3 separate regions of the Homo sapiens genome follow, and regions 1 and 3 are each linked to region 2. Evidence: fine-mapped expression QTL. A gene starts in region 2. Each other region holds a variant in brackets. All regions are shown on one strand. Distances are from middle to middle.

Region 1 (11,035 bases), 310 kb after region 2:
TTTTCTTTAAATTTTTATATTCTTTATTTTTGGGGATTAGAGACAATTTATCAAAGACACAATTGTACACAGCTTTGGAGTTTTTCCTTCTGGAGATTCTTTTTTTTCTTGCAAGATGAGAATTCCCCATGGTGCTCTTTCTGAAGACACTTATGACTTAAATGGAGTCAAACAAGTAAAAACTAAATTCCATTCTTAAAGTTCCTTCATTCAGTGCTGCAAACGCTGGTGTGCCAAATCATCGAGTGAGATTTTTTATCCTGTTCTGTGTTATTATTAAAAATGTATGAACAGGCGGGGCACAGTGGCTCACTCCTGTAATGCTAACACTTTGAGAGGCTGAGGTGGGCAGATCACTTGAGCTCAGGAGTTTGAGACCAGCCTGGGCAACATGACAAAACCCCATCTCTACCAAAAATACAAAAAAAAAAAATAGCTGGGCACGATGGCATGCACCCATAGTCCCAGCTACTCAGGAGGCTGAGGTAGGAGGATCACTTGAGCCTGAGAGGCAGAGGTTGCAGTGAGCTATGACTGCACCACTGCACTCCATCCTGAGTGGCAGAATGAGACTATGTCTCAGAAAAAAAAAAGACTATTGTCTATTTTATATTCATTTTTAATTACACAAACAAAACATGAATATAATCTCATTTTAAAATATTAAACAAATACGAATAAAATAAAAACCCCGTTTAGTCACTGTCTGGCCCCTCCCAATCACACCCCCCTTTCTGAGAACATCTGTCCTGACATTTTTCTGCATATTTACCTGCATATATGTACACACACAATAGACAGTTTATCATGCCAGCTGTTTATCATGCAACTTACTTTCTTCACATAACTAAGCGTGGGAGAATGTTGGGAGAGTGTTGTTAACTACAGGTCAGTATTTCATAGCATGAGCATAGTGAGGTTTATTTGACCCTTCCCCTTCTTGGTGAATATTCAGGTATTTTCCAGGGTTTTGCTAATAGAAACAATGCTGCAAGAGCCTTGCTCAGATCTCTTGTGCACAGGTGTGAGCTGTACAACAGATGCTGAGTTAGGTAGAGTGACACTACATTGCTTCAACAAAGAGACCTGCAATAAAGCAGTAGCTTAGAGAAAATTGAGGATCATTTCTCATGGAAGTCTGAGCCATGTAGTCCTGGTTGATGGGGCAGCTGTGCTCCACACAGTCACTCACAGACCCCAGCTCCTCACATTGCCTTTTTCCTCTCTTCTTTAGGACAGCACTTCTCAAACGGTCTATGGTGAAAAGCCAGTTTATTTCATTCAATTGTGGAGTGAAATATTTTTTAACTTGCAATAAAGATGCCATGGTGATATTCTGTTACTATAAAAGCCTTAATATCTGTACTAACCCAATGTAAACTAAAAATAAAATCCTAAGCCCCCAGCTGACTGAACGGACCCCCTCTTGGCCAGGGGGACATTAGAAAACCTTAAAAATGAGTTCACAGCCATGATGAGACAGCAGGTCAGACATGCCTCCCTTTTGGAGATTAAACACAACAACTAACCTGCATTGGTGTTAAAATAGAGATCATAAGACTGACAGAACACACTCTTGATGACAATTAGATGCGAAATTATAAACAGGACCTAAGGCCATGCCACGCAAAGGTTAAGTCCCACACCCCTATACTTACAGAATGAACTGTGCTCTCACTGCCACAAGTTTTTCTTTTTCTCTAGCAGCTAAACAAGCACTGGCCTTGAAATAAGCAAGATTATAAACAATTGCAGCTCAGCCAGCTTCAGACATGGACTAACTGAACCCCTGTTCCACCAGGCATAACTACAGCTTTGATTGGACAAGAGATTGATTTCAGTAACTTTCTCCTGATAAGACCAGCAGCCACATGCTTGTTCTTGCCAGTTTACAGAGATTTCATGCTTGAGTGACTTCATGTCCTGAAAAGACCTTTGGATGTATAGGACCTAACTGTAATACATTTAAATGTTAAGTCTCCACCCCAAAGTGAACATGGGTCATATGTTACATGCATGTTTGTTCAGTACACATGTGTCAGGACCCCCCTTTATGAATATTCATAGCTCTTCCTGTAACCTGTTGAATATGTATGTTTAGCTAACCTGTCCAGCACCAAGATCCTAGCCCAACCCCTCCTCCTTCAAAGTGCCTGTCTCTTGTCTTGGCCAGAGGCACGCTTCCCAGCCTGCAGGACGACCACCTTGCAAGCTGTAACCCTTAAAAAGAAGTAAAGTCTCCTTTCTCCTTTACAAATTTATAGATTTGTTTAAAAGTTAATGCTGGTCATGGACCCACCACTAACAAACAATTTATGGGTGCACAGTGGTTCAGGGACCCTGCTATAGCAGCTCCACTTGAGGAGGAGCTTGAGTGGGGAGTGGGCACCACACTCACCCCAAGGGATGCTGGGCAATCTCGTCTCACTGAGCAGCCTAGCACCCATGAATAATAGCCCTTGGGCCAGAGAGACAATGAGCAGTCTCACCCACAGATCCCCAGAAGTGGCATTTACTGGGTTCAAAAGGTACAGGCATTTTAAAAGTAGATTCTGGCAACGTTCCCTCCAAAAAAGCCTGTACCAAGTGGCAAGAGTTCCCATGTCCCCCCACCCTAGCCAAAACCAACGGGCAAAAATGGCAGGTACTTCCTTATCATTTGCACTTCCCTGATTACTAGTGCAGTCAGGTTGAACATCTTTTTACTATTACAGACCATTCAATGGCATCTTCTGTAAACTGCTCTTTCATACTCTTTGCTGATTTCCCTATGGACATGCAGTTCTTTTTATATGCTTGATAGTAACCCTTTGTTATGTACATTGTAGATGCTTCTTCCACGGTGTTTTTTTGTTTTTGTTTGTTTGCTTGTTTGTTTTTGTTTTTGTTTTTGTTTTTTTGAGACGGAGTCTTGCTCTGTTGCCCAGGCTGGAGTGCAGTGGCGCGATATCGGCTCACTGCAAGCTCCACCTCCAGGGTTCATGCCATTCTCCTGCCTCAGCCTCCTGAGTAGCTGGGACTACAGGCACCTGCCACCACGCCCAGCTAATTTTTTGTATTTTTAGTAGAGATGGGGTTTCACCATGTTAGCCAGGATGGTCTCGATCTCCTGACCTCATGATCCGCCAGCCTCGGCCTCCCAAAGTGTTGGGATTACAAGCGTGAGCCACCGCGCCCAGCCCCACAGTTATTTTTAACTTAGTTAATGGCTCATTTATTGTCCTGTAGAAGTTATATTTTTCACAGTTATGTCCTCAAATGTATCAGGCTTTTCTTTTATGGTGTGTGCATTTTGTGCCTTACTTAATAACATCTTCTTTATCCTCTAGTCTTGTTTTTATAAATTTGCTTGTATAGTTTTCTTTTTTATAGTTTTGTTTTTTATGTTTAGACTTTTTGTTAATCACTCAGGAATATTGTCTTTTCTATGATCTATAGTTAGAATCTATTATTTTGTTTTCCTTACATGAATAACCAATTGTCCCAACACCATCCTTCCCCCGATTATTTGAAATGCCAAGTTCATCACGTAGAAAGTAAGCTCCATGCTTCCATGAGGGCAGAGGCTTTGTTTTCCTCACCCCTAAAATAATGTCTGGCACGTCATGATTTGTCAACTGAATGGATGGATGAATGAATGAATGAACGAATGAATTCTAAATAGCCAAATTTTCATGGGCGTGTTTCTGGAATTTCTGTTGTCCTATCAATTAATATGATGATTCTTGCTTCAATACTCTACTGTTTTAACTATTGCTTTATAAGTTTTGATATCTAGTAGGTTCTTTCTTTTAAGATTTTTTGCCAATCTTGTACATTTCTCTTCCAAATTGATTTAAGATTTGCCTCACAGGTTCTATTGAAATCCTTTGAGGATTATTATTGGGGTTGCATTAAAGTTATAGATTAATTTCAGAAGAGCAGACGTCTTTCAAAGTTGAATCTTTCTATCCAATAACATGATATATCTTATCATTTATTCAGGCTACTTTTATGTCCTGTAGTGAGTTTTTATATTTTTCTTTATATCAGTCTTATGCATTTTTATGCCTTTTAAGTTCAAATGATTTTATAGTTTGCGTTGTTCTGGGGATTACAAGGTTTTTAAAAATAGTATATTGGTTAATTGGTCATTGCAGGAAAGGTAGAGCCTGTGAAAACATCTCATATGAACACTAAAGATTTGTCAGGTGCTTCTTTTAGATTCTTTAGAAAATGAGCACAACATAGCTGAATAATTATAGTCTTTTCTAGTCCAACATTTATACTCTGTATTTCCTTCTTGTCTCGCATTGATCAGGCTGAGTCCATTACTAAAAGTTGGCAAGGATGCTGTAAATAGATGCTGAATTTTATCAAATGCTTTTCCTACATCAGTTGAGATAATATATTATGTTTTCCCTTTAACCAGTAATGAAGTGAATTACATTAATAACTGTGTTAATATTGATCTATCTTTGCATTATTTGAGGGAACCCGTACTTTGACATGATAAAGGATCCTTGTAATGTCCTCATGGATATGAGGTATCTTTGTGTTTTTGTTCATGAGGAAGATTGATCTACACAGTGCTTTTACTGTGCAATCTGATTCCAATTTTGGTATCAGGGTTATAATAGCCTCATAAAATGGGTTTGGATGCTTTCCATCTTTTTCAATGCAGAGAAGGGTTTGTACAATATGAGAATTACCTATTTCAATTCAGATTTAGCAGAATTTAACCATATAACCACCTGGGTCTGATGCAATATTGAAGCATAGATCTTTGACTATCTTTACATTTCTTCTATGGATATTGGTTTATTCTGATTTTCTACTTCTTGACCAATTATTATAATTTGTATTTTCCTAGAAAATTTTCTATTTTATCTATATTTTCTAATGTATTCACATAAAACTATATATAGTATTATTTTTTTGTGTGTGAGACAGAGTCTTGCTCTGTCACCCACGCTGGAGTGCAGTAGCACAGTCTCGGCTCACTGCAACCTCCGCCTCCTGGGTTCAAGTGATTCTCCTGTCTCAGCCCCCTGAGTAGCTGGGATTACAGGCATGTGCCACCATGCCTGACTAATTTTTGTATTTTTAGTAGAGATGGGGTTTCTCCATGTTGCCCAGGCTGGTCTCTAACTCCTAACCTCAGGTGATCTGCCCACCTCAGTCTTCATTGCACCTGGCCTATATATAGTATTCTCTTACAAGTTTTAGAAAAATTGACTCTGCATCTGAAGTTTACACCCTGTCCTGTTTCTCATTATATTTATTTGTTTTTTCACCTTCTTTTCTCCTGACCAATATCTCTATGAATTTGTGCATTTTTAAATATTGGTCTTTTCAACTATTCTGGGCTTTTTGCAATTTATTTATTTTATTAATTATTATTTTCAGTATTGGGGGCTTTCCTTTGGTTACTAATTTCTTATTTTAGTGTTTTGGATTCAATAAATATGATTTCTGCCTTTGAACTTGAGATTTTCTTTGTGACCAAATATGTAGTCAGTCTTGGATAATGTTTCATATACTTTTGAGAAGAAACTCTGCGTTATCTGATTGTCAGATGCAGTTATACACACTGTGCACCTCTTAGGTCAAGCTCCTGACTTGC[G/T]TTATTCAGATCCTCTATATACTTATTTATTTTGTTGTTTCCTTGGTCTGTCAGTTCCTGAGAGAAGTATAGTAAGTCTCTTTCACTCTGACTACGAACTTGTCAATTTTTTCTGAACTTCTATCAAGTTTTTGTTTCACATGTTATGAAACTATATTGGGCACCAAGCCTTTAAGCTTGTGTCTTTTACATATAGGAATAGTCATATTTGTCCCTGAGAAAGTTTTTTGCTTTGGGCTCCATTTTACATGATAGTAGTATTGTTCTACCTGCTTTCTCTCTGTTAGTATTTTCCCGGCATTTTTAAAATCCATTTATTTTGACTCTTCTCATTATTTGTTTTGTAAAGAGACCCTGAGTTTGTTGGGAGTAGTAGTGTTGCAAGTTTCAAATCTACATTTCCCATCCTTCCTTGCAGATAGGGGTGGCCAGTAAAATGAGAGTGAAAGTCACTGGGTGGAGCTTCTGGAAGGTTCCTGACAGTGGGCTGAATTACCAGGAGCTGCCCTGTTTGATCCCCACACTTTCTCTTTCTCCTAACCTAGAACACATATTTGATGGCTGGAGCTTCAGCAGCTATGTTGGTGCGGATAGAGAAAAAAAGCCAAGAAAATCGTAAAGATCTCTCTTGACATCCTCAAGCAACTAACAAAAGCCAGCAACTGCCTACTTCCTTATGTCTCCATACGTGGAAAAAATAAACTCTTTTGTGTTTAAATCCCCACTGCTGGTTTTCTGTTACTCCATTGAACACAGTTCCTAATTAATACATTGCCTGTGGAGGCAACCAGTATTACCCAGTTTTTGTTTATTCTTCTAGAGATATTCTTTTTACTGTCATCACTTTAAGTATATTTTCAACTTTTTATAATGGGCAATTTCAGACATACGCAATAAATAGCACATGGTATAATGAACCTCCACGTACCCACCACCCAACTTCAACAATTATCCATTGACATTCTATGCATGTACATGCACACACACACACACACACACACACACACACACACACACACATTCCTATTTTATACAAATGCTAGCATGCTACTCACACTGTGCTTTACTTTTCTTTCTTAAATTAACAATGTGTGTTGGAGATGGTTTATATCAGCACCTAATTTCTTCATTCTCTTTAATGTCCATCTAGTATTCTTTTATCTTTTCACAAAAATATATCTGTAGAATCAATTCCTGCATGTGCAATTGCTGGGTCAAAAGGTACACAATTTGTAATTTTGATAGATGTTGCCAAATTACCCCCACAGAAGTCGTACCAGGTCCAACTCCCAAAAGTAACATAGGACAGTGCCTATTTGCCCACACTCTTGCCAACATTGGGTGCTATCAAACTTTTCTACTTTTGCCAGTCTGATAAATGAAAGCAGGTAGTTTTGATTTGGATTTCTCTTATTTGGAAGTCATTTGTATTTCTCTCCCGTGAACCGTATTCCTAGTTTATGCCTGTTTTGCTATTGTGTTGCTGTCATTTTTCTTACTATTTTGTAGGAACTATTAAATAATAGGAAAACTAGCCTCCTTGTCTCCAACAGGAATTGCAAATAATTTTCCCGGTTTAACATTTGCCCTGGACTTTGCTGGCAGGAAGTTTTGTGTTGAAGAAACTTTTCGTTTTTATGTACTGAATTAATCAAGCTTCTCTGTTTTGGCTTCTGTCATACTTTAAAAGGCCTTCTCTCTTCCAACATATTTTAAATGTCCCATATTTTCTTCCAATATTTTTATAGCTTTATTTTTTTAATCTTTAAATCTGATCCATCCAGAATTTAGTTGGTTGCACATTATGATGTGGGATTCAACTTCACATTTTTCCCAGATGGCCACCTACTTATCCCTACACCATTTATTGAATAACCCATCTTTCCCCAAGGAACTGAAATAACATTTCTATCATATTCTAAATCCTCGTTTGTATTTGGATGTATTTTAGACTTTCTGTTTTTTCTATTGTTCTGTCTTCTATTCATATATTAGTACTACACAGTTCTTTTAAATTACTCTCAATTTATGTTTTAATATAAGTATTATATTAAATATTACATCAAACATAATATTATGTTATAGTAAGTATTATATTAAATATTACCTCACACATGTTATAAGTATTGTATTAAATATTACATCAAACATATATTATGTTATAAGTATTATATTAAATATTACATCAAACATGTTATAAGTATTATATTAAATATTACATCAAACATATATTATTATAAGTATTATATTAAATATCACATCAAGCATATATTATGTTATAAGTATTATATTAAATGTTATATCAAACATATATTATTATGTTATAGTATTATATTAAATATTACCTCACACGTTATAAGTATTGTATTAAATATTACATCAAACATATATCATTATAAGTATTATATTAAATATTACATCAAACATGTTATAATAAGTATTATATTAAATATTACATCAAACATATATTATGTTATAAGTATTATATTAAATATTACATCAAACATATATCGTTATAAGTATTATATTAAATATGACATCAAAATATTATGTTATAGTATTATATTAAATATTACCTCACACATGTAAGTATTGTATTAAATATTACATCAAACATTATGTTATAAGTATTATATTAAATATCACATCAAACATATATTATTATGTTATAATAAGCATTATATTGGTAGGACTAGTGCCCCTCTCATTAGTCTTCCTTTTCAGAATACTTCTGGCTAATTTTACTCCTTTAGTTTTCTACACCAATGTTAGAATCATCTTGACGAATTCCAAAATCTTCTGTGGTTGTGTGTGTGGGATCATCTTTAATTTAGAGATTGATGTAGGGAAATTTTGCTTCTTTATGAAGTTGACTTTTTCTATCTGAGAACATTATAGACCGTTCCATTCACTCAGGCCTTTTTTGATGGCCCTGAGGAACATTTTAAAATTTCTTTACATAGATCTTGCACATTTCTTGTTAAATTTATTTCAAGGTATTTTATTGTTTTTATTAAATGGCATCTTTTTTTTTATTGTATGTTCTAACTTATTGTTTGTCTCAATGATTTTGTACCCATACAACTTACTGAATTCTCCTTACTCTTCGTAACTTTTTTTTAATTTGTTTTTGTTGCTGTTGTTGTTGTTGTTGTTTGTTTTGAGACGGAGTCTCGCTCTGTCGCCCAGGCTGGAGTGTAGTGGTGCGATCTCGGCTCACTGCAAGCTCCGCCTCCCGGGTTCACGCCATTCTCCTGCCTCAGCCTCCCGAGTAGCTGGGACTACAGGCGCCCGCCACCACACCTGGCTAATTTTTTTGTATTTTTAGTAGAGACGGGGTTTCACTGTGTTAGCCAGGATGGTCTCGATCTCCTGACCTTGTGATCCCCCCACCTCGGCCTCCCAAAGTGCTGGGATTACAGGCGTGAGCCACCGTGCCCGGCCCTACTCTTTGTAACTTTTTTAGTAGATTCCCTTAGATTTTTCCTGATGCAGAGACATATATATAATAGATAATCTGCAAATAATCATTGTTTGAATTCTGCTTGCTAATGTCCCAACTTTTCAGATTGTGAAATACAGCCTAGATACAGAGGACTGTGTAAATCATATATATTTTTTACATGCATTTTCTGCACTTTAAAACTCTACAGTTATAAAGTGAACATACTCAGCTAACCCCCTGGACCCCAGATCAAGGGCTAGAGCCTTGGCCGCCACCCCAGCCCAGAGTGTGTCCCTTGCAATCACCTTCTTATTAAATTTTTCGTAATCTTTTCCTTGCTTTGCATCAGAGTTTTGCCACTGAAGCACACATCCATCCATAAATCATATGATTCCACTTTGCTGTTTTTGAACTTTACATAACTGTAACTGTAATGTATGTTTTTTGTGTGTCTTGCTTCTTTCATGCATCACTGTGTCTTTAAAATCCATCCTTACTATAGCATACTTAGAGTGTATTCCTTTGCATCCCGGTAGAGTATTCCATTGTACAACATTACCATGATGTATTTATCCATCCCACCCCTGCTGAGTATTTGGTTTATTTTCAGCCACCAAATGCTGTGATGAACCATTGTACAATTTTCCTGTGGCTGCTGCAACAAAATACCACAAAGTGGTCGACTTACAATAACAAAAATGGATTCTCCCACAGTTCTGGAAGCTGGAAATCCAAGATCAAGGCATCAGCAGAGCCACACTTCCCCTGAGGGTTTGAGGAGAGATTCTCTTTCTTGCTTCTTCCTCCAGCTTCTGGTGCTCCAGGCTTGAGGCCACATCACTCCACTTTCTACTTCCATATTCACAAAGCCTCTCTCAAGTGGCCTCAGGCCTTTCTCTTATAAGGACACTTCTCATTGGGTTTAGGGCCCACGTGGATAACCAAGGATGATGTAATCTCAAGATCCTTAACTTAATTACATCCACAAAGACCATTTTCCCAAATAAGATCCCATTCATGGTGCCTAGGGATTAGGACGTGGGCATGTATCATTTTTGTTGTGGAGTAGGGGGCACCATTCAATGTATTGCAACCGTCTACACTTGCTTTCTGGGGCCCACATACACAAGTGTCTCTAGAGTTTGTATACTTAGCAGTGGAACTGCTGGGTCATAGGGGAAGTGTGTCTTCAATATTACTACGGGATGCCAACCCTTTTCCCAACGCACACTCCCACCAGCAGTGTGGGAAGTTTCCACTGCTGCACAGCTTTGCCAACTTGCAACTGTGATACCTTTTGGTTTCTGCCAGTCGGGTGGGTGTGTAATGGTATCTCCCACTAACGTCAACTTATAGTTCTGAAATGACAAATGAGGTCGGGCACTTTTCATATGTTGTGAAGAATTGTCTGTTCAAGACTTTGGCCCATTTTTCTATTGTAGTCTATGTATTTTTCTTATTTTTTGTTCCTTCTATCTTCTAGTTACGAGAACTTAGTTACATGTTTGTTTCCCTTCTGTTCTCCAAATCTCCCATCAGAATCTCTCATGTTGCCCATCTCACCAAAACCTATAAGAAAGGGAATTCTGGAAAACATAGTTCAGGCTAGCCAAGTTGACACATTACAAAGCCACCTCAATCCATTTCTTGAACTCTCCTCAAATTACTCAGTCTGCACGTGACAGTCATTTCCTGTCAGACAGCTGACTGTTACAGAAGTGTAGCATGTTTTATCATTCAATAAAATATTTATTAATTCCCATGTTACTGTCCTTGAGCCCTGGATGATTTCAATGTGCATTTCTTCTTTTCTAAACACGTGGGGATTTTTCTAGTTATATACAGTGAGCTTCTTCCTCTCTGCAGTGAGGGAGATGTGCGCCATCTCAGAGAAAGTACGTTAGAAAAAAACCTATTAGATTTGGACTTTTGTGGGGTATTTTGAGGAGGGCCCGAGGAAGCCAGGGTTTGCTCTAAGCACTGTC
Region 2 (11,035 bases):
TGCCTGACACACTGGTAACCAATTATTTGGGTTCAGGTCCCAACAGGTGTCTGGGTTTGAGTGAGTTAAGTCTATGATGAAAGGTGGAAAGGGAGAAGAGGACATAAAAACAATTTGTTTTTCCATACCAAGGCTTTTGTGCCAAGGTGGCCATGTGTGTCAAAGTCAGGGAATCTCTCCTCTTGGGAACCAATAGGAAGTCTCTCAAACCTAGAAGGGAAATGTGTTTTCCCCACATCAATCCAGCTTCATAGACATTCTATTAGTGACCTATGCCCCTTTCCCCCCAAACAACAATGAAGTGCTCTGCGTGCTAACAGCATAGCTTAAAAAAAGTAAAACAAAATTATGAATTTTTATAAAACTCGATAAAAAATAGTATTTCAAACTCTTCAGTCACCAGAAGTACAGTTATCAAAAATGCAGACACTTCACGTGGCATCTCCAGGACCTTCAGCTTTCTGTGCCTGGTCTGTTTTGTCATCTCCATTTTCTGCAGGGTTATTCCCCTCCCTGCCAGCATTAGCATTTACCCTTTTCCCTATGGGTACCTTCACTCACTTTTTTGCAGGGGCCTCTTTAGGCTTAGACTCTGGCTTTGGAGAAGCAGGTTTAGCAGACAACCTCTTGGATCTTTTCTGTGGTTTGTCCTTCATGTTGGATTTATCTCCTTTAGCATCCCCTTCAGCCTTTCTCTTGGGGATGGTGGTGATAGTGGCGGGACATAGGCTCTGGGGGAGGGATGCAGTGGTGCACGGGCTTTGGCCACTCTGGGGAGTCGTTCTTGTCTCTTTACTTCCAGATTCTTTTTTTTATTTTTTTATTTTTTTTATCTTATAAGTAATTCCTTTGCTCTCCTCTGGCTCTCATGTATCCTCATTATTAAATAGTTATGCCATCTAGTCCAGATTCCATTTCAGAAACCTTTCAGCATTTTTACCATTCGAAGATTTGCAGTTTAATCTTTTTATTAGTTTTCTAGAGTGACTGTACCAAAGTACCACACTAGGTGGCTAAAGCAATAGAAATGGAATGTCTCACATTTCTGGAGTCCAGAAGACCATCAAAGTATTGTCAGTGTTGGTTCCTTCTGAGAGTGGTGGGGGAGAATCTGCTCAGAGACCTTTCTCCTAGCTTCTGGGGCTTTACTGCCAATCTTTGGCATTCACTGGTTTGTGGAAGCATCACCCCAATCTCTGCCTTCATCTTCACATGGTGTTCTCCCTGAGCATCTTCATGTTTCTGTGTTCAAATTTCCTTGCTATAAGGACACTTGTCACATTGGATTAGGGGCCCACACCACTCCAGCTTGATTTCATGTTAACTAAGTACATCTACAATGACCCTATTTTCAAATAAGGTCACATTCTGAGGTGCTAAGGATTAGGACTTCACCATATGAATTGAGGTATGGGGAGACATAATTCAACCCATAACAGTCTTAAATTAAGAGGTGTAATTTCTGTCCATTTGTGTATTTTCCCAGAGAAATTTCTTAAAGTCCAAATAAAAAACTTAATTGGTCCAATAATGATGATTCAGAGGAGCTATTGTTATCTGAGCTTCTATAAAAATTAGCGTGCTTTGGGCTGCAAGTACCAAAAGTGTGACTCAATGCCAGCCATATGAATGAACCATCTTGGGTGCCCAGCCCTGTTGAGTCTTTAGACTTGATTCTCAACTCATATCTCAATGCAACCACATGAGAGATCCCATGAGTGAACTGCCCAGCTAAACCTTCTCTCAATTTCTCACTTACAAAATTGTGAGCAGAATAAAATGGTTGTTTTAAGCCAGTATGTTTTGGGTAGCTGGTTGTGCAGGAATAGTAACTTAATGGGAAGAAATATCCAAAGTAAATAAATAACTCCTATGAAAGAATTAAAAAAGAGAAGCACCCCAGTTGAGAATTGAGACAAAAATAGGAATTTCAATCAAGAGGAATAAAAAATGCCCCCCCAACCAAGGTATTAAATCTAATTCATAATCATAGAAATTCTACATAAAAGCATAATAACAATTGACATTCCTCAGGATTAACAACATTTAAGTCACACAATATGAAATGTTAGTGATGATATGGAGCTTGATGGAAACATAAATTTGTACAGCAACCCAGAAGACAATTTGGCAATGTCTCTGAATACTAAAGATAGTCTTTGATTCAGCAATGCCATGGCTAGGTACATAACTTAGAGGAACTCTCCAAGAATATTTAAAGCAGCATTGTTTCTGATAGTAAAAATGGGAAACAACTTAAATATCTGTCAATGGGAAAATTGATAAATTTTGGTACACACACACACACAATGGAATACTATACAGAAGTGAAAATTGAGGAATAAAATTTGCTTATATCAAAATGGTGATTCTCACAAACAATAATTAGTTAATACAGTGATGACTATGAATAGTATGATATCATTTCTGCCAAGTGTAAAAGAGACAAAGACAATTTTTTAGGGATATAGTCATTTGCAGAAAAAGCACGAAGAAATGCACATGGAGGACAAGAGTGGGAGACAACAGGGAAGGAATCTGCAGGCGCTTACCCTCACTGGCAGTGTTTTATGTCTTCATCCAGTTACTACATTCAGGAGTACTGGATGTACTTTTTAAGTACGTTTTGTATGTTAAATATTGCAGAATGTATTTTATAAAGTATTTAATTACCAGAAACTCTTTAAAAAATTCCCAGGCCTGTTTCAGACTCAGCAGATCAGATTGCAGAGGTGGGGCCCATGAATCTGCCCCTTTTGTGACCCCGATAGTCACTACTGGTCTAAGCCAGGGCAAGGCCACCCCGGTGGAGGTTGCTTCCTTCATGCTGTATTATGTTTTTCACTTTACAAGTAATAATGTTTATCCATCAGTTCCCCAACTTTGGTGCTGCTGTGTTATCTACCATGCAAGGAGATGGGGAAGCAAAAGTAATTAAGACATTTCCACTGGTTTCAAGGGCAAAGGTTAACTCCAATATAAAGGAGTTCTAAAACTTTTCAAATTGGACATATTCACATCTATTGTCTTGATACCAGTGTTTCCAAATCCTTTTTTCCCAATGCCCAGAACATCCACAGATCACTGCGTCTGTCTGGGAACTTCACAGGCTTCTTTCCGGAGACATTCCAGACACGCCCCTCTGCCTTGGCATGAATACTTGGCATCTCCCCTTGACATCTCAAGCTTTGTCATTTACTCACTGTGTGACCTTGGGCCAGTAGTGTCCCTTCTCTGAACCTCTGTTTCCACCCCTGCAAGTTGGGCAGATGAAGGTTCAGTTTGAAGCTGGTTGAGCCCTTGGAGTGACAAAGCAAGGGACTGTGAATGGACAAAAATGAGAGAAATAAATTCTAATAGGCATGAAGCAACCAGGGGAGAAATAGTCCCAATTCTACCCAAAGACTGATGGGCACTAATTTAGAATCCAGTCTCAATTCTACCTTCAATACGGTGTGTGACCTTGAAAATGTCTCTTAATCTCTCTGAGCCTCATGAGTCAAATCAGGATAATGTTAATACCTGCTTCAGAGTTCTGGTGAGGAGCAAATGAAATAACTCCTGTAAAGATGTTTCAGGAATTCTGTCTGACCAGGAAAAAGCCCTTGGGGCCATTTCTTCTTGGTCCCTGACAAGTGCCAGGCTGACGAGCAGAACTCAGGGTGGGGCAGGAAGTCAGTGGACAGTTTTGTGCCCCACTCACTGCAAGGTGGCCTCCCAGACTTGGCTGGATGGGTGAACCTGGCCTGAAAATCAACCACAAGCCCCTTTTCGTTGTGTTTGGAGAGGAGCTGAAGCTGTGTGAATAGGAGTTGAGCATGCGGCTGGCAGAGCAGGCAGGACCCACAGAACACCTGGGCCCACTGCCTGAGGGACAGTCACTCCCTTCTTCATTTGGCTGCTGCCCTGGGATCAAACGGATACAATAGAACCCACGGCGCACGGCTGCCAAGGAAGGGCAGGCCCAAGGGATTGGGCTCCAAGTCCTGGAAGTGGTTTCCCAAGTCACTAGATTTGCAGCGCACAAAACCGGAAAGGTCCCGGTAAACCTGTCCACTGGCACCTGGGCAGCGAAGCGCTTTGGCCGGAGGGCCTCAGGTCCCAGCAGCGGGATGGACAGCGGGGAGATGGCTGACCCTCCTTGGGGTGGTGTGCGTGACCTGCATGAGTGCCTGGGGCATCTCCTGCACGGAATGGCACCCGCACCAGGTGCCCCTGGCCTCGCCAGCCAGAGGACCAGTCCTGGACGGGGAGGGGGAGGACAAGAGCAGGTGAACAGGCCCCAGAACCCGGCTCCCTGACCCTGGCCATAATGCAGAGCTGCCTGGCGCACCTCAGACCACTCCCTGGCCCTCTGGTGGGCACGCCGGGGTGCAGACCCCTCGCCCCGCTGGCACCTCCGTGGCACGTGCGGGAGGGGCAGGAGCCGGGACCAGGAACCGCTGTGGTGAGAGCCAAAGGCACGGGGACTGGCCGCCACAGACCTTTGGCCACCGCAGTGGGGATGGGGGTGGGCGGGCGCTTGTGTGCCCGGGGGCCCGGGGGCCCCCGTGGCGGGGGGGCTAGGGGAGAGGAGCAGGTGACGTCACCCGGGGACCTGGGGCCCCCAGGGGCGGCGGCGAGAGCCCGACCTCGTGACCCGTCCGCGCCAATGGCCCTGCGGTCTCCCGGACGACGCGGAGGGGTCCGCGCTGCACCGCCGCCGCGCCCCCGCCCCGTGTCCGCACTGCAGAGAGCCGCGGCGAGCAGGCGCCGGCGCACTGGCCCACGTGCTGCGCGAGCGAGGGAGAGCCACAGTCTGAGCGAACGTCCGCGCTGGGAGCCAGGGGTGCCCGACCCCCGTCCGCCGCCGCCGCCGCCGCCGCGCATAGCCCCCGGAGAGCCCTCTGGGGACCCCGACCAGAAGGGACCTTGCCCTGGGAGAAGGTAACAGACCCACCTGGGGAGGGAGACGCTGGGCCCCGGGAGACTCCGCCGCCCCTCGCCTGTCCGCCCTATCAGAACTGAAGCAGCCTGCAGGGCAGGGGTCCAGGGTCCTGGGGCAGCGCGGGGAGGGGGCTGAGGCCCGCAGAGACCCCACGGGGGGTGGGGGTGGGGGGCTGGGCAGGGGCGGGGCCTGGCTGCAGAGGCGCCGCCCGGGGAGGAGGGCGGCTGGGGGTGGGGGTGGGGGTGGGCGTGGATGTGGGCGTGCGGAGAGGTGGGCATTAACCTCGCTCTCGCCCTGCTCGCATTCACAGGCTGTGGAGACCTGGGCCTTCTGCGATCACCCTAGGAGTTGATCCAGATATGTGCCTCACGCCCTGATCACTCCCCCCAAATTAGTATCCGCAGAGATTCGAGGACATGCCGTTGACCTTGTTACAGGACTGGTGTCGGGGGGAACACCTGAACACCCGGAGGTGCATGCTCATCCTGGGGATCCCCGAGGACTGTGGCGAGGATGAGTTTGAGGAGACACTCCAGGAGGCTTGCAGGCACCTGGGCAGATACAGGGTGATTGGCAGGATGTTTAGGAGGGAGGAGAACGCCCAGGCGATTCTACTGGAGCTGGCACAAGATATCGACTATGCTTTGCTCCCAAGGGAAATACCAGGAAAGGGGGGGCCCTGGGAAGTGATTGTAAAACCCCGTAACTCAGATGGGGAATTTCTCAACAGACTGAACCGCTTCTTAGAGGAGGAGAGGCGGACCGTGTCAGATATGAACCGAGTCCTCGGGTCGGACACCAATTGTTCGGCTCCAAGAGTGACTATATCACCAGAGTTCTGGACCTGGGCCCAGACTCTGGGGGCAGCAGTGCAGCCTCTGCTAGAACAAATGTTGTACCGAGAACTAAGAGTGTTTTCTGGGAACACCATATCCATCCCAGGTGCACTGGCCTTTGATGCCTGGCTTGAGCACACCACTGAGATGCTACAGATGTGGCAGGTGCCCGAGGGGGAAAAGAGGCGGAGGCTGATGGAATGCTTACGGGGCCCTGCTCTCCAGGTGGTCAGTGGGCTCCGGGCCAGCAATGCTTCCATAACTGTGGAGGAGTGCCTGGCTGCCTTGCAGCAGGTGTTCGGACCTGTGGAGAGCCATAAAATTGCCCAGGTGAAGTTGTGTAAAGCCTATCAGGAGGCAGGAGAGAAAGTATCTAGCTTTGTGTTACGTTTGGAACCCCTGCTCCAAAGAGCTGTAGAAAACAATGTGGTATCACGTAGAAACGTGAATCAGACTCGCCTGAAACGAGTCTTAAGTGGGGCCACCCTTCCTGACAAACTCCGAGATAAGCTTAAGCTGATGAAACAGCGAAGGAAGCCTCCTGGTTTCCTGGCCCTGGTGAAGCTCCTGCGTGAGGAGGAGGAATGGGAGGCCACTTTAGGTCCAGATAGGGAGAGTCTGGAGGGGCTGGAAGTAGCCCCAAGGCCACCTGCCAGGATCACTGGGGTTGGGGCAGTACCTCTCCCTGCCTCTGGCAACAGTTTTGATGCGAGGCCTTCCCAGGGCTACCGGCGCCGGAGGGGCAGAGGCCAACACCGAAGGGGTGGTGTGGCAAGGGCTGGCTCTCGAGGCTCAAGAAAACGGAAACGCCACACATTCTGCTATAGCTGTGGGGAAGACGGCCACATCAGGGTACAGTGCATCAACCCCTCCAACCTGCTCTTGGTAAAGCAGAAGAAACAGGCTGCAGTTGAGTCGGGAAACGGGAACTGGGCTTGGGACAAGAGCCATCCCAAGTCCAAGGCCAAGTAGGCTCGGGAGAACAGGGCAACATTTCCTACCACAGGCCAAGGAGACAAAAGAGATATTGGAAGGAGGGGAAAGAGAAGCCCAGACAAACAGCAGATGAGTTGAGTGGGGCAGAGGGACAGGGCAGCCAGACCAAGGCCAAGCCTTCTCACCCTTGGCCAGCTGGAAGGGACTTCAGCAACCAAGACCACCTGGCAACAGGCTCAGTGGGGGTCAGGTCCAGGTCCCCGAAGAGGTGCTGGAGAGGAAAGCAGGGAGCCACTGCATCCAGCACATGGGGTGCCTGGGCCTCAGATGGGGACCCCAAAGAAGCAGAAGCTGAAGAAGGTACGGCTGGGGGTTCTGTCCTGCTCATCCAACCACCCCTAAATACCCACCCTGTGGACTTTGAGCTGAACATGCCCACTGGCCCCCAGGCCACATGGGACCTGGAGGAGCCTACCTGGGGCCTGCCCCTGCCAGCAGGTGCCAGGGCTGGTGAGGAAGAGCTGGGGGGCAGAGGTAAAGCCCTGCAGGGGAGGCCACAGGGTCCATCCCGTCTTCAGGATCATCTACACTGCACTAGGGGAGCCCCAGGAAGGCAGCACCCTGGAGGCCCTGTGCCAGTGAGGACAGGAGACCCTAAGGCCCCGGGAGCCCAGTGCCAGCCAGAGGTTGTGCAGGCAAGGAGACCAAAGATTGATGAGAAGACCCCCAGCAGGGGTACTGGGTACCCGGCAGGCCAGTGCCCTCACAGTTGACTTGGACCAGGGTGGCTGTGAAGGGAAGTCTTTGTTGCAAAGGAGGAGGAAAAGGGAGGACTTGGTAGGGTTTTGTTTCTTCTGCTTGTTTCTGTACAGGGCCACCAGACTCCTGGAGAGATCAAGCAAGGAGAACCTGGGGCTGCCATGGCCAAAGCAACTCAACAGATGCCAATGCCAATTCCAAGGCCAGCCACAACCCTGCCACCTTGGGGAATCCAGCCTGGAGGCATCCCCTAAGCAGCCAGCCATGGCCTGGGTGGAGGCACCTGAAGACGTCTGTCCCAAACTCCCCCAGCCCTGAGCTGGGAGATGACAGGGGGAAAGAGGCCCTCTCAAGGGTGCCAGATGCCTGGGTCTCCCAAGAGGGGTCCCCCAACTCACTGTTCCCGGGACAGGCTGCCCCCTGTTCCAGGAAGCTCATCCTCACCTGTGTAGGCCCCTGTAGTGACCCACGCGTCCAGCAGACGCCCACCCACCGCTAGCCGTTGTTCCTGTGCAAAGTAGTGTGCTATGCACCCACCCAGGTGGCCGCCTCTGGGCCCAAGGCACATGCTGTGAGCTTCCTGTGAGCCCAGGCTCTGCTCACTGCTGTCCCGCGTCATGAGCACCACCTCTGCTTTCCCTGTGTAGATCTAGGCCAGTGGCTGCTTGTTCTTGTGGAGCTGTGTGTGTTCTTCTCTGAGCAGCTCCTCCCCGGAGTCCCCCAGCACAGTCCCAGGAGATGACAGGAAGGAAGCACCAGGGCAAGGCGGACGCTCACCCTGTGACCACGATGGTGACCGTGACTGTGGGAGGAAGAACTGGACCCAGGACGGAGCGGGGCTGCCCTGCCTGAGGCTCCCGAGGAGCTTTGTGCTTTGGTGTTCCACCCCTGTTGTTACTCATGACTCAGTTTCCTTAACCTGGTAGGGTGTTCCCTGCTGTGTTTTCCAGTGTCCTGTGACTGTCCTGTGCGGGCCATAGGGCAGGGCCCTGCCCCAGCAGATGGGCTTGGGAGGGGACTCCCTAAAGCCAGTGGACACTGCCAGAGTCTACCTTCCTGGCAAGAGGCAGACCCCGGGGCCCTCAGGAAGGAGGGAGTTGGCAGCGGGGGCTGCAGCAGGAGTAGGAGCAGATGAGGCGTCTTGCCAGGAACCTCAGGAGGAGGGGGCCCGGGACCTGTGTGGGACCTGTGTCCTGTGGTGGCCGTTTGCAGTTTCTCTCTGTGTTGTGATTCCCTTCTCTTCAACGTTTTCAGTACGTGTTTCTCTTCAATAAACTTCATTCAGTGTTCCAGCCGGCCTCGCCTCTGCTGTGGGAAACTGGGGATGAGGTTGGCTGGGCATGGGGTTGGGGTGGAGTGAGGGCCACAGTGGCTTTGTTAACACTGGTGTATACTTGGGGCTCGGTCTGCAAGGCATTCTAGAATGCCCTATCTGCGCATGTTGGTCATGAGCTAGGGTTCACGGCCCACGGACCCAGGCAAAGAAACCCAGCTGAGCAGGCTGGATAGTCCCAGTAGACAGGACACTGGTAGGCCCAGGCAGTGGCTGGTTGGGTCCTCAGGGCACTGGTTGAGCTTCTCAGAAATGAATAACATATTTAAGGAAGGGTGAGGGACAGCAGGCTGGACCAGTGGCCCCAGGATCCCTTGTATCACTATTGGGCTTCCACACCTGGAGCATCAAAACCAGGCCCATCTCTGTGAGTGTGTGTGAGATGGTGAATATGTGTGAGTATGCGTACTAGTGATTGTGTGAGAGTGAGTGTAGGAGAGTTTGTGTGTGTCATGTGTCAGCGAATGTGTGAATATGTGAGTGTGTGAGATGGTGTGTGAATATGTTAATGTGTGTTTGTATTTGAGTGTGAGTATGCATCAGTTTTTGTGTGTGAGTGAATGTGTGTTAGTGGTCAAATGTATGTTTATGTGTTTAATGTATATGTGTGTTAGTAAAAGTATGTGAATATGTGAGAGTGAGACGGTGTGTGAATGTGTGTATGACAGTGAATGTGTGGGTGACTTTGTGTTGTTGAGTGTGCACATGAGTGAATGTGTGTTTCAGAGTGTGTTTATGAGTTTGTGTGTGCATATGCGTGAATGTGTGGAATGGGTGAGTGTGTGAGTATGTGTGTTAGTGTGTATGAGACAGTTTATGAGAGGGTGTGTGAATTTTCGTGTGAGTGCAAATGTTGGGTGATTGATTTTTTTTTTATTTCTTTAAGGGATCAAGAGGGTTGGAAAGAAGGCAGAGAGAGGTAGAAGTTTCTTTGCCACCAAACAGCAGTGAGACTTTTGTTGCCTCTAGGCTGATGGCCCTAGAGCTGGGCCTACTAGCTAATCATCCATTTCTGACCCCTGGCACATTCCTATTTTTAAGGTTCACATGGCTTCTTGGCCTTTTGGCTACGATCAAGTGCAGTATCTATTTTAAGGTCCCTAATCTAAAAATAGATATGTGTTACAGTTATTGTGTGATTAAAGCTGATAGAAACATCCTCGTATGAATCTCTGTGGACTTTTGTTTTCCTTTCTCCCGAGTAAATACCTAGGAATGGAATGGCTGGGCCACAGGGTAGTGGTATATTTAACTTTATAAGAAACTTCACACAGATTTCCAAAGCTATTGTGACAATTTATACTCTAATGAGCAGTGCTCGTTTCTTAGGGTACTCCAAAAAATCTTGTATTGCCAGCTTTAAACTTTTAACCATTCTGTTGGGTGACTCACTGTGGTATCTCACTGAGGCATTAGTTTGCATTTCTGTGATGACTAATAATATCGAGCACTTTTTCATGTGCTTATTAGCTATCTGTCTTCCTTAGCGAAGTGCCTGTTCAAGTCCCTTGCCTAGTTTTTACCTGGCTTTTTAAATTTTTTATTAGAGTTGTGCAAGTTGTTAAAATACTCTGGATACAAGTACTTTGATATGTGTGCTGGGAACACTTTTTACCAGTTGTGTCTTTCTTATGCATATTCTTAATGGTGTCTGTTCATAAGCTGATGGGTTTAATTATAATGAAGTCCATTGCATCATTTGTTTCTTTTTACAATGACCACTGCCTGGGTCTTGCCTAAGATATCTTTCATTGGCCCACATTTGCAAACATATTGATCTATGTTTTCTTCTAGAACCTCTGTAGTTGTAGCTTTTGCATTTAGGTCTTAGAATATACCTATATTGGCTGGGTGCAGTGGCTCACACCTGTAATCCCAGCACTTTGGAAGGCCAAGGTGGGAGGATTGCCTGAACCCAGGAGTTTGAGACCAGCCTTAGCCTCAAAAAACAAACAAACAAACAACCCCAAAAGTTAGCTGGGTGTGGTGGTGCATGCCTATTATCCCAGCTACTTGGGAGGCTGAGGTGGGAGGATCTCTTGAGCCCAGGAGATTGAGCCTGTGCTCTAGCCTGGGCGACAGAGCCAGCTCCTGTCTCAAAAAAAAAAAGTACCTAAATTAGTTTTTGGTGTGGGGTCAAGATGCATTTGAAAAGACTTTCCTTTCGACATTGATTTTATTTAGAGTGTTGGTCAAAAACTGTTTGACTTTGTACCTGTGGGTCTATCACAGGGCTCCTCTCTT
Region 3 (11,035 bases), 24 kb before region 2:
GCCCTTAGTACAGCTGGCCTGAGATATCCCTGCCCTGTGCAGTCCCAGATGGGCTGCTGGGGCGCGATCTTCCACCTTCCCATTCCAGGGCCTCAAGGCGGCCTCCAGAGTGGGCTCCACAGCCTGAAGGTGGCATTTCCCCGTGGGTGGTTGCAGTGTCTGCAGACAGTGAGCAGGCACCAGCGGGACCCCAGAGTGGCTGAGGGCACACTGGGCAGGAGCCAGATCGCTGTCCCCCCAGGCAGTAGGTGCGACAGCGGGTCCTGGTCTGGAGCCTGAGGAGAGGGGAGGAGGGTCTCCTTGCTGCAGGAGTCTGGGTGGGGTGAGCTCCTGGCTGCAGGGCACCTCTGGCTACAGAAGGGGACGATGGGAGAGAGAGGGGCTCTGGCTGTGGGGGAAGGGGACTCCTGGCTGCTGATGTGGGAGGCGTGGGAGGGGGTTGCCAGGTTGCAGGGAGGATGGCATTAGGGAGAGGGCTCCTGGTCAAGTGCTGGGAAAAAGAGGAGGTGGGCACATCCAGCTGCAGGGTTGCACATGATGGTTGGAGGGGCTCCAGCTGTAAGTTTTGTGATCAGGGGCTGTTCACCAGGTGAAAGAGGCGCTTCCTGCTGTGGAGGTGGGGGGTGCAGTGAAGGACTCTGAGCTGCAGCAGTAGGGGTGGGGGAGCATGGGCTGTGACACTGGGCAGGGGAGATGCTTCAGGCCCTGCATTTGGGAGTGGCTGGTCTCTGGCTGTGCGGTGGGGGTGGGCTGACTGGCAGCAACGTCCCTCTCTCCCCTTTGCACTCACAGGCTGCGTCAGAGACTGCAACAGTCAGCACACATTCCTGTCTGATCAGGCTCCCTCCCTCAAGTCCTCTGCGATGGCTCTGGCGATGCTTCGGGACTGGTGCAGGAGGATGGGTGTGAACGCAGAGCGCTCTCTGCTCATCCTGGATATCCCTGACGACTGCGAGGAACATGAGTTCCAGGAGGCCGTGCGGGCTGCCCTGTCGCCCCTGGGCAGGTACCGAGTGCTCATCAAGGTCTTCAGAAAGGAGCTCGGGGCCAGGGCAGCCTTGGTGGAATTCGCTGAGGGTTTAAACCAAAGCTTGATTCCCCGCCAAATAGCAGGCAAAGGGGGACCCTGGAAAGTGATCTCCCTGCCCCAGGCCCTTGATGCTGAGTTTCAGGATATACCCAGTTTCCCTGCATAGCCCCAGGGGCAAGCAGTGGCCAGAGGTGCAGGTGAGGCAGGAGCTGCAGGTGAGGCAGGATCTGTAGGTGAGGCAGGAGGTGTGAATGAGGAAAGATCTGCAGGTGAGGCAGGAGCTGCAGGTGAGGAAGAAGAGGCAGGTGATGGAGGAGCTGCAGGTGCAGCAGGAGCCATAGGTGAAACAGGAGCTGTGGGTAAGGGTGAGGCAGAAGCCACAGGTGAGGGAGGATCTGCAAGTGAGGCAGAAGGTGCAGGTGAGGGAGGAGCTGGAGATGAGTTGAGAGTTGCAGAAGAGGCAAGAGAGTCAGATGAGGGAGCCGCAGGTGATACAGGACCTGCAGGTGAGGCAGGAGCTGTGGGTGAGGCAGGAGCTGTGGGTGAGGCAGGAGCTGCGGGTGAGGCAGGAGCTGTGGGTGAGGCAAGAGGGACAAATGTAACAAGAGCCTGGGTCCAGCCTCGGCGCTGCACCCTGCAGGCTGTGCTGGAAAACAGGGCCTACCAGGAACTGAGACCCTTTTCAGGGAGGGAGCAGCCAGGCTGCGAGGAAGAGTCCTTTGAGAGCTGGATGGAGCACGCCAAGGATATGCTGCAGCTGTGGTACCATGCGTCGGAAAGGGAGAGGAAGAGATGGCTGCTGGAGAGCTTGGGTGGCCCAGCCCTGGACGTTGTGAGCGGCCTCCTAGAGGAAGATCCCAACTTGGCGGCACTGGACTGCCAGGCGCTGCTGGACTGCTGGGCAGCGGTGCTGGGGCAGGCGTTTGGAAACCGGGACCCTCGAATGACTTCCAGGCTGAAGTTCCTGACCTGAACGCAGGGGCCCTTTGCCTTCCTGGTATGCCTGGAAGGCCTGCTGCAGATGGCCCTGGAGAAGGGGGCCGTCTGCCCGGCCCTGGCCAACCACCTGTGACTGCGGTAGGTGCAGCCTCAGGCCTGCCCTGGCGAAGCACTCCAGAATACCCTGAGGGGGATGCACTGGAGAGGAGGCCGCCCTACTTCCTGGGGCTGCTTCAGCTCATCCAGGAGATGGAGGCGTGGGCGGCCTCCCCAGTGAGGAGCCAGCATGTTGTGGCCTGGCCAGTGGCCACAGTGGAAAGTGAAGATCCAGTTGCCGCCCAGGCAGCTCCTGCCTGTGGAGATGCTGCTCAGGCCTCCTCAGCCCAGGAAGACGCCAGCCAGGCTGACCCTGGCGTGGAAGATGCTGCTGAGACTGCTCCTGCCACCAAAGAGGCCGCCAGGAGCACCCCTGCCATTAGGGAAGGTGAAAATGCCCCTGCAGGCCTCGAAGGAGCCAGAGGGTCTTGTCCAGGCAGGAGGCCAGGAGGCTGAGGAGCCCCCCGACCCAAGGGGGTCTTATGTTCATACTGGAGGAGTTGGAAAATGAGGATGGGGCCAGGAAGGTTGGTCAGCCCAAATCCTCCCCAGGCAAATAGGCTCAGAGGGCCCCAGGGCCTCCTCTCCTCTCAGGCCGCAGCATCCTGGAGGCAGTGGGGAGGCCAGGCCAGGGCTGGTCCCTCATCCCACATCAGGATCGGGGCCCCCCACCTCCCTCCAAAGGGCCCTGGCCACCACCATCAGCCCTTCCCGGTGACCCAGATGACCACGTTGATACCAAATGGGGTTGGGGGAGGCACCCCTGCTTTGCACCCAGTGCTGCACCCAGCCCCAGCCCCAAACCCTGCCGTCTCTGGGGGGCTGGCCAGGAGGGAGCCCTGAGTGGCCAGCTGCGACCTGGGTGGGGGCACCTGAAGATGTCTGTCCCCCACCCCTTGTCCTGGGTTGGGAGAGACAGGGGAAAGAGGTCCTCTCAAGGGTGCCAGCTGCCTGGGTCTCCCAAGAGGGTTGCCCCATTTGCCGTCCCCGGGGCAGGCTGCCCCCTGTTCTGGGAAGCCCACCCTCACCTGTTTAGGCCCCGTAGTGACCCACGCGCCCAGCAGACGCCCACCCACTGCTAGCTGTCGTTCCTGTGCAAAGTTGTGTGTTGTGCACCCACCCGGGCGGCCGCCACTAGGCCCGGGGCATGTGCTGTGAGCTTCCTGTGAGCCCAGGTTCTGCTCACTGCTGTCTGTCCTGCATCTTAAACACCACCTCTGCTTTCCTGGTGTAGATCTAGGCCAGTGGCTGCTTGTTCTCGTGGAGCTGTGTGTGTTCTTCTCTGAGCTGCTCCTCCCCGGAGGCCCCCAGCACAGACCCAGGAGATGGCGGGAAGGAGGAACCAGGGCGCGGCCAATGCTCACCCTGTGACCACGATGGTAACCATGACTGTGGGAGGAAGAGCCGGACCCGGGACGGAGTGGGGCTGCCCTGCCTGAGGCTCCCAGGAGAGCTTTATGCTTTGGCATTCCACCCCTGTTGTTACTTGTGACTGTTTCCTCGACCTGGTGGGCTGTTCCCTGCTGTGTTTACTGGTGTCCTGTGACTGTCTGTGATGACTATAGGGCAGGGCCCTGCCCCAGCAGATGGGCTTGGGAGGGGGCTCCCTGAAGCCGGTGGACACTGCCAGAGTCCACGTCCTGGCAAGAGGCGGGCCCTGGGGCCCTCGGGAAGGAGGGAGGTAGCAGTGGGGTCGGCAGCAGGACGGGGGTAGACGAGGCGCCTTGCCAGGAACCCCAGGAGGAGGGATCCTAGGACCTGTGTCCTGTAGTGGCTGTTTGCAGTTTCTCTCTGTGTTGTGGTTCCCTTCTTTTCAGTGATTTCGGTACACGTTTCTCTTCAATAAATTTCATTCCATTTTCCAGCCGGTCTCGCCTCTGCTGTGGGAAACTAGTGGGAAAGGTCTCTTTGGGATAAAATGGAAGTTGGGGGACAACAGTGGCCTGGAATTCTGACCCTATTGTGCTCACTGGGATACGGTCAGGGCATAGTAGGCCAGCGATTGTAGAGAATGACCTAACTGCGATGGTGGTTCCAACCCAGAGTCAGTGGCTTATGAGGATGAGGAAAGAAACCAAGCTGAACATGCTGGATGGTGCCAGTTGACGGAACACTGCCGTGCGAGGGCAATGTGTGGCTTGCTCCCCAGGGCATGCATGGAGGCTCCCAGAACGAAGTGCATAAGACGTGGAAGGGCAGGCAGGGGACAGCAGGCTGGGGCGGAGGCCTGGGTTGAAGCTCTAGCATAGACATCTTTTTAACTGTTCCTCAGTTCCTCATGTTTATCCTGTGTGTGGAGCTTTCACCATCTCTTTGGAAAGACAGAAGAGATGGATAAGGAAAAGGAGTAGAACAGAGCGGCACCCCTTGCCTTCCCCAGAGTCTGGGTAGCGGGCGCAGGACGTGTCGCCTGTCCAAATGCGCAACTTTCACCAGTGTACGCTACGCGTGCGCGCCTGTGCACCTTGACGAGCACGCAGCCGTCATGAGTGCGCCTGGGCACGCCGCCATTTCCTGCAGCCGCGACAGCACGGTCGTATATTTCCGGTTGTCATTTTATTCTTTTTGAGAAATGGTCTCGCTCTGTTGCC[C/T]AGGGTGGAGTGTAGTGGCGCTGTCATAGCTCACTGCAACCCCGACCTCCTGGGCTCAAGCGATTCTCCCGCCTCAGCCTCCCGACTAGCTGGGACCACAGGCGTGCAACCACCATACCCGGAACCACAGTCACAGTCGGTCGCAGTGCCCGCTGGGAAAATGCGACCGTCCACAAAGCGAAACGGCCATCGGGGCGAGTTCGGCCTCGGCGGGGATTCTCCTGAGGTCACGCCCGCTCTGGCCGCCAGAGGACGCCCGAGGATCACGAATGGGCCCGAGGAGCTGGCTGCCCCTTCCCACGCTCAAGGTCTGCAGCCGTGGCCAGAGTGGCCTTGGGGTGACCGCGCGTGGACCGTCGCCGGCGGGAGGGAGCGCGGTCCCGCGGGGGCCGAACGGGGCTCCTGTGGCCTGAGCTTGTTTCGCAGGGAGCCCTGGCGGCCATGGCTCTGGGACACCAGACAACGGTCGTCAGGGCTGTCCAGGGTAAGGGGGTGTGGACGTGCAGACAGGGAGGGCAGCTGGACCCTCCAACCATGCTGGGCCCTTGGGCTGACCGGGGCTCGTCTGTGGGGCTCAGTGAGGAGGGACTTTGTTCCCTAGGAGTTTGATGAGGGAGCGCCATGGGGGTGGCGTCATCCTGACATCCTGCAGGGCAGTGGAGCCTTACTTTCCCTAGCCCCAGAGATCATGAAGTCTCTCTTTGTTTAAAGGTAGAAACCAAGGACAAGAGATTGGTGGGAACTGCTCTGGTTACAAAATTGCAGAACCAGACTTCTTAATTCTGGGACCCGTGCTGCTTTCATTACACTCTACCGCTTCCAGTTTGTGATGTGCTCCTTCTGTCAACAGTTAGCAAGCCTGCTGGCTCTGTTGCTCTGGCATGAGTCCAAAGGTGAAGGATGGGGGGCTGATGCATTTTGATACTCAAAATGTCTCCTAAACTGTCCAGTATGGTATACCATCTCCTGCCTCCTTGATGCTTGTGATGGCACCCCAAACAGTATATTTGGAAATCTAACATTCTTACTCCTGCCTGGACAGGCCCTCAGTATCATTCAACGAAAGCTCAATTATTACACAGGGAGTGACAGCACAGTTGTGACTTTCCCATTGTCATTTTTTTTTTTTTTGACACAGTCTTGCTCTGTTGCCCAGTCTGGTCTATGTCCACAGTATCTTCCTGGTCTGCTTATACGAAGTCAAGCAATTTCTGTGCTGGCATGGGTTCCAAGCACCTGAGAAAGCCCAATGTCATCTCTTTTCACAGTGGTTTTGTCTTTTGGCCGTACTTTATATTCCTTCTAGCATATAACCCCTTCCTGACTGAAGGCCAGGCAGAGCACGGGCCACTTTAAAGTTTAACTTTCAAGTAACTAAGATCCTCCCTTTCCCAGAGCAGCAGCAGTGCTTGGAGAAGCACCTGCCTCAGTCTTTATTCTCCCTAGAAACTGACCTTTCCTTTTCCCATTGTAACTTACCTCTGAGCAAGTTGGCAAAAAAGCCTGCATGCTCCCTTCTTTGCTGCATGAAGGAAATTCAAACCATGCAATTTCCTGTCTCCATGTGGGAATTCTCATCTTGGCCCCCCACTTCTAACCTCAGTGAAAACCTAGGCCACTCTCCTTCCTTTGCTTCCAGAAGCCATTTTGGAATTGCTGGAGATGACTGCTCCCCTCTCCTGAAAACCCTCAATTACATAAGTAGTGAAACTTTTCTTGTCCTCTTGGTGTGTATGTGGTGTCATCAGTCTTAACATCCTAGCCAATTTTTGAGTGGGGATCTATCTGCCTCTGAAGGTGACCTTAAAAACAATTTTGCAGGAGGCATAATGGAGGTTAGAGCCACTTTAAAGACCTCTAGGATGTATTAACAGGTATGGTGGTCCCCATCATATCTCCATTTTATCCGCCAGTTCTGTCCCCTGTAGAAATTGGATGAATTCTGGAGAATGAGTGTACACTACCTCATGCTTTATCAAGTAGTAATCCCAGTTGCAGATGCTGTGTACCAGACACAGTATCATTGCTCAAATAGATTTATAAGGCCTTAGGTGCATAGTATGTGGCCATTGGTTTGATGAAGGCATTCCTTTCCATTTCAGCTGGTCAAGGAAAGAGGATAAGAAGCTGCTGTGGTTTGAATGTTTGTCCCCTCCTAAACCTATTGTTGTGGGAAATTGAGGACTGGAGAGACCAATATGGAGAACAGGAGGATTGTTTATTTTAGCTACACACCAGCTTAGTGGATTTGTATTCAAGAAGCTGAGCATTAAATAAAGACAGAGCAGGGTTTTTATAAGCGGATTTACAAAAGTAAAATAAAAGTAGCTAATTATATGATAGGTTATATAATTTATAGCATAGCATAACTTGTGGCCTTGCATAGCCAGTGGCCTTGTAGCTGCGTTGAAAGAAAAATAAGAACTGGCTAAATACAGATATTTGTAAAACATAGGTATGCTTAAGAAGCCAGGGAAAGGAGTAACAGTAAAGGAATTTGTGTTTCTCTCTTTTTTTTCCTTTAACCTTGTTTTGGAGGGGAGGGGTGTCTGGAGCCCATTCCTTTGGCCTTGGCTCCTTAAACAGCGTTATCTTATAACTGTCTTTGAAGTTAGCTTGCTAGGCAGAGGAAAACCCCTTTTTTTCTTCTTAACCCTTGCCTTGCCTGTTACTTTTTTTTTTTGGAGTGAATGAATGCATATTTATTTTTAAATTTCTGCCTCACTATGTTGAAATTTAATCCCCAGTGTGACAGTATTGAGAGGTGTGGCTTTAAGCCTTACACTTTTCAAGTGTAAGGGAAGCAGATGAAGTTCCCCAGTCATTGGTTTTTTTTTTTTTCACTTGTTTTAAAACTAACAAAAAGTATTCATTCTACTTTTGAATTGTCCCCAAAATGCCAAGTCTTCCCCTTCTCAGCCAGGCAGGATTTGGGAGAATGCCTTCTAAAAACACACTGCTCCTTTCTGGTATTGGGCCACTAAATCCCTTACCTTACTTACTCCCTTACTCATTGGCAAGGCCCTCATGAGTAGATTAGTGCAATCATTGATTAATGGGTTAATGGATTAATGGGTTATCATGGGAGTGATACTGGTGGCTTTATAGGAAGAAGAAGAGAGACAGAGAGACCGGAGCACACGCAGCCATCTCACCATGTGATGTGTTGTGGCACCTCAGGACTCTTCAGAGAGTCCCCACCATCAAGAAGGCCCTCACCAGATGCTGCCCCTTTACCTTGGACTTCTCAGCCTCCATAACTGTAAGACCTGTTTTTTTCTTTATAATTACCCAGTTTCAAGTGTTCGATTATAAGCAATGGAAAATGGACTGACACAGAAGCATTTCACGATCATGTGGACAAACAAAAATCTTTATTTACAATTTGTCTCAGGACCATGTTAACGCTTCTGCCCTGTGTTATACCTATCCTGTGGCATAATATAGTTCAAAGAGATGTGGATCATCTAGACAGTGCATAGAATGGCACGTGGATCTGTTACACTGACATCATCATTCTGATTGGACAGGACAAGTAAGAGGCAGCCTACACACTGGGAGGCCTTGGTGAGACACGTGCACTCCAGAGGGTGGGCAATAAGCCCTATGCGGATTCAGAGATCTGCTACATCAGTGAAATTTTTAGGGGTCCAGTGTTCGGAGGCGTGCCAGGATGTCCCCTCCAAAGGAAAAGACAAATTACTGCCTCTTGAATCCTCCACCACAAAGAAAGTAGTGCACCTGGTGGACCTCTTTAGGTTTTGGGGAGAAAACATTCCACCCATAAGATAACTTCTACGGTTCACACACTGGTTGACACAGAAGGCTGGGAGATTTGAGAGAGGCTGGGAGCAGGAAAGGGATCTGCAGCAGGTCCAGGCTGCAGTGCAACTCTTGAACCGTCACATCTGACAGACCCTGCAGTGTCAGAGGTGTCAGTGGTAAGAATGGAGGCAGGGTAGGGTTTAAGGCCAGTCCCCATGGGAGGATCGCCACACAGGCCTCTAGGGTTCTGGAGCAGGGCCATGCCACCCGCATCAGAGAATCATACACCTTTTTAGAAAACAGCTTCTGGTGTGCTTCTGGGCCCTTGCAGAGACAACGCTTGACCATGGGACACCAAGTGACTGTGTGTCACTTATAAGCTGGAATTTCTCCTTATAAGCTGGGTCTGTCAGACCACAAAGTGAAAAGTCAGATGACCCTCCAGCAATCCATTGCACGATGGAAATAGTTCATCTAGTCAGGAACAGAAGTGTGAGTGAGCTATGGAAGTAGCAGCCAAGATGCCTGTGTGACCCATCACAGTTACACCAGTGCCCTTCCCTTAGCTCACACCTATGGCTGTGCGATCTCATGTGGCTAGATGAAGGAGGAGGAAAAGGCCTGAATATTGCTTATGAATGGTTTGGCTCAGTCTCTGAAATGGACAGCAGCTATATTCCAGCCACACCCACCTAGGGACGTCCCTGAAAGACAGTGGGGAGGGAAGATCTTCCTGATGGGTGGAGCTTTAAGGTGTGCACCTTATCATCCACTTTGTGTGGAAGAAGTGGCCCAGGGTAGGAATATGCACAGATTTCTGAGCAGTGGCCAATGGACTAGCCAAAGGTCTAAAAAGGAAAGGACTGGAAAACTGGAGACAAGGAAGTCTGGGGTAGAGGCATATGGATAAACATGGGAGTGAGCATGAAGGAAAAGCTTACGTCACATACAAGTGCCCACCAGAAAGCATCAACAGTAGAAGAGGAGCTGAACTGTCAAGTGCACAAAATGACTCAGCAAGTTGGATATTAGCCACCCTTCACCATCAGCCAGTCCAGAACTGACACAATGGGCACATAAACAGATGGGCCACAGTGTGAGAGATGGAGACTGCTCACGGGCCCAGAAGCATGGAATCCTACTTAACAAGGCCTTTATTGCTGCTACTAGCTCTGAAGGTCCAGTCTTCCAGTGAAAGAGACCAATGCTGAGACCCCAATATGGCACCATTTCTCCATGTTGGGTCCATTATCTCTTAGAAGAGACATCCATTCTTTCTTACAAGGACAGAAACCTATTCTGAGTATGGGTTTTCCTTTCCTCCTGGCAGAACTTCAGCTAACATCACTATCCAGGGGCTTTCAGAGTGCATGACCTGCAGACCTGGAATCCCACACAAGAAGGTATCCTACCAAGGGACACACTTCAGAGTGAAGGAGGTATGTGCATGAGCCCATGAGCATGGGATAGTCTGGTGTCACACTGTGCCACCCAGAAGCTACTAGCTTGATAGAGTGTTGGAATGGCCTTCTGGAGGTGTAGCTGGAGCACAGGCTTAGAGGCAATACCCTACAAGGATGAGGCGCCATCCTCCAGGATGCAGTATATGCACTGTGTCAGAGATGTCCATGTGGCACTGTGTCCCCAGTAGGAAGAATACATGGGTCTGGAAGCCATAGGGTGGAGGCCAAAGTGGCCTCACTTTCCATCTTTCCCAGTGACCTACTCAGGGGCCAACATTGTGCTTCCCATCTCCTTAAATCTAGGCTCTGCAGGGTAGAGGTTCTGGTTCTTTGCACTCTTATCAGGACATACAGCCTGGGTTCCAGTTGTACTTATAGCCACCACTGCTGCCTGGCATTTTGGGGTTCCTTGATTCCAGACACCAGCAAGCAGGAAGAATCATCATGGTGGTGGGAGTAATAGAGAATTATCAAGGAAGAGGTAAGACTGCTGTTATATAATAGAGGCAGAGAGGAATATGCTCGGGACTCAGATGATCTTTTCTAGTGACTTTTGGTACTCTTTTGCCTCATTGGCTGTAAGTGATCAAGTACAGTGTGAGTGGCCTAAGAAGGGTATGGATACGAGGGACTCAGACCACTCAGGGATGAAGGAAGCTGCCAAAACTGCAGAGGTTATAGTTGAGGGTGAGGGAAATCTAGAATGGATAGTGGAAGAGGGTAATCATAAATACCTGTTGCAGTTGCAGGACCAACTGCACTGATGGGGCTTGTACTTTGTCCCGCCAACTTCTCTCTTCTTCTTTTTCTTTTTTTTTTTTTTTTTTGAGACAGAGTCTCACTCTGTCACCCAGGCTGGAGTGCAGTGGTGCGATCTCTGCTCACTGCAAGCTCTGCCTCTCAGGTTCACACCATTCTCCTGCCTCAGCCTCCCGAGTAGCTGGGACTACAGGCCTGCCACCATGCCTGGCTAAATTTTTTTTTTTTTTTTGTATTTTTAGTAGGGACGGGATTTCACCGTGTTAGCCAGGATGGTCTTGATCTCCTGACCTCGTGATCTGCCCACCTCGGCCTCCCAAAGTGCTGGGATTACAGGCATGAGCCACCGCACCCGACTGCCAACTTCTAAGTTTACCTTCAGAAAGAGTGGC

Alleles and levels. Alleles are on the strand shown, and positions count from the first base shown. SD is a standard deviation of normalised expression in the study named. Not every link is listed here.
For the expression in whole blood of the gene that starts at base 4,758 in region 2, T is the high allele of the variant in region 3 and C is the other (moderate effect, 0.40 SD a copy in GTEx).

Evidence for each region.
Region 1: its variant is fine-mapped to the expression of PNMA3 in kidney cortex (GTEx, PIP 0.97).
Region 3: its variant is fine-mapped to the expression of PNMA3 in whole blood (TOPMed, PIP above 0.99). The same link has a PIP of 0.9 or more in sun-exposed skin and unexposed skin.

What each region holds. Positions count from the first base shown.
Region 1 is chrX:153,360,146-153,371,180 of GRCh38, forward strand. No RefSeq gene overlaps it. Among named protein-coding and RNA genes, the nearest start is that of MIR12129, 30 kb to the left of the region's middle. The variant G/T (reference allele first, on the strand shown) is at 5,606.
Region 2 is chrX:153,051,713-153,062,747 of GRCh38, forward strand. It overlaps PNMA3 (PNMA family member 3), which reads left to right and starts at 4,758. Exons shown (of 2, transcript NM_013364.6): 1 at 4,758-4,926; 2 at 5,238-8,750. The coding sequence starts at 5,344. The coding sequence ends at 6,735. It also overlaps the pseudogene HMGN2P48.
Region 3 is chrX:153,027,922-153,038,956 of GRCh38, forward strand. It overlaps the pseudogene LOC112268308. Among named protein-coding and RNA genes, the nearest start is that of PNMA3, 23 kb to the right of the region's middle. The variant C/T (reference allele first, on the strand shown) is at 4,657.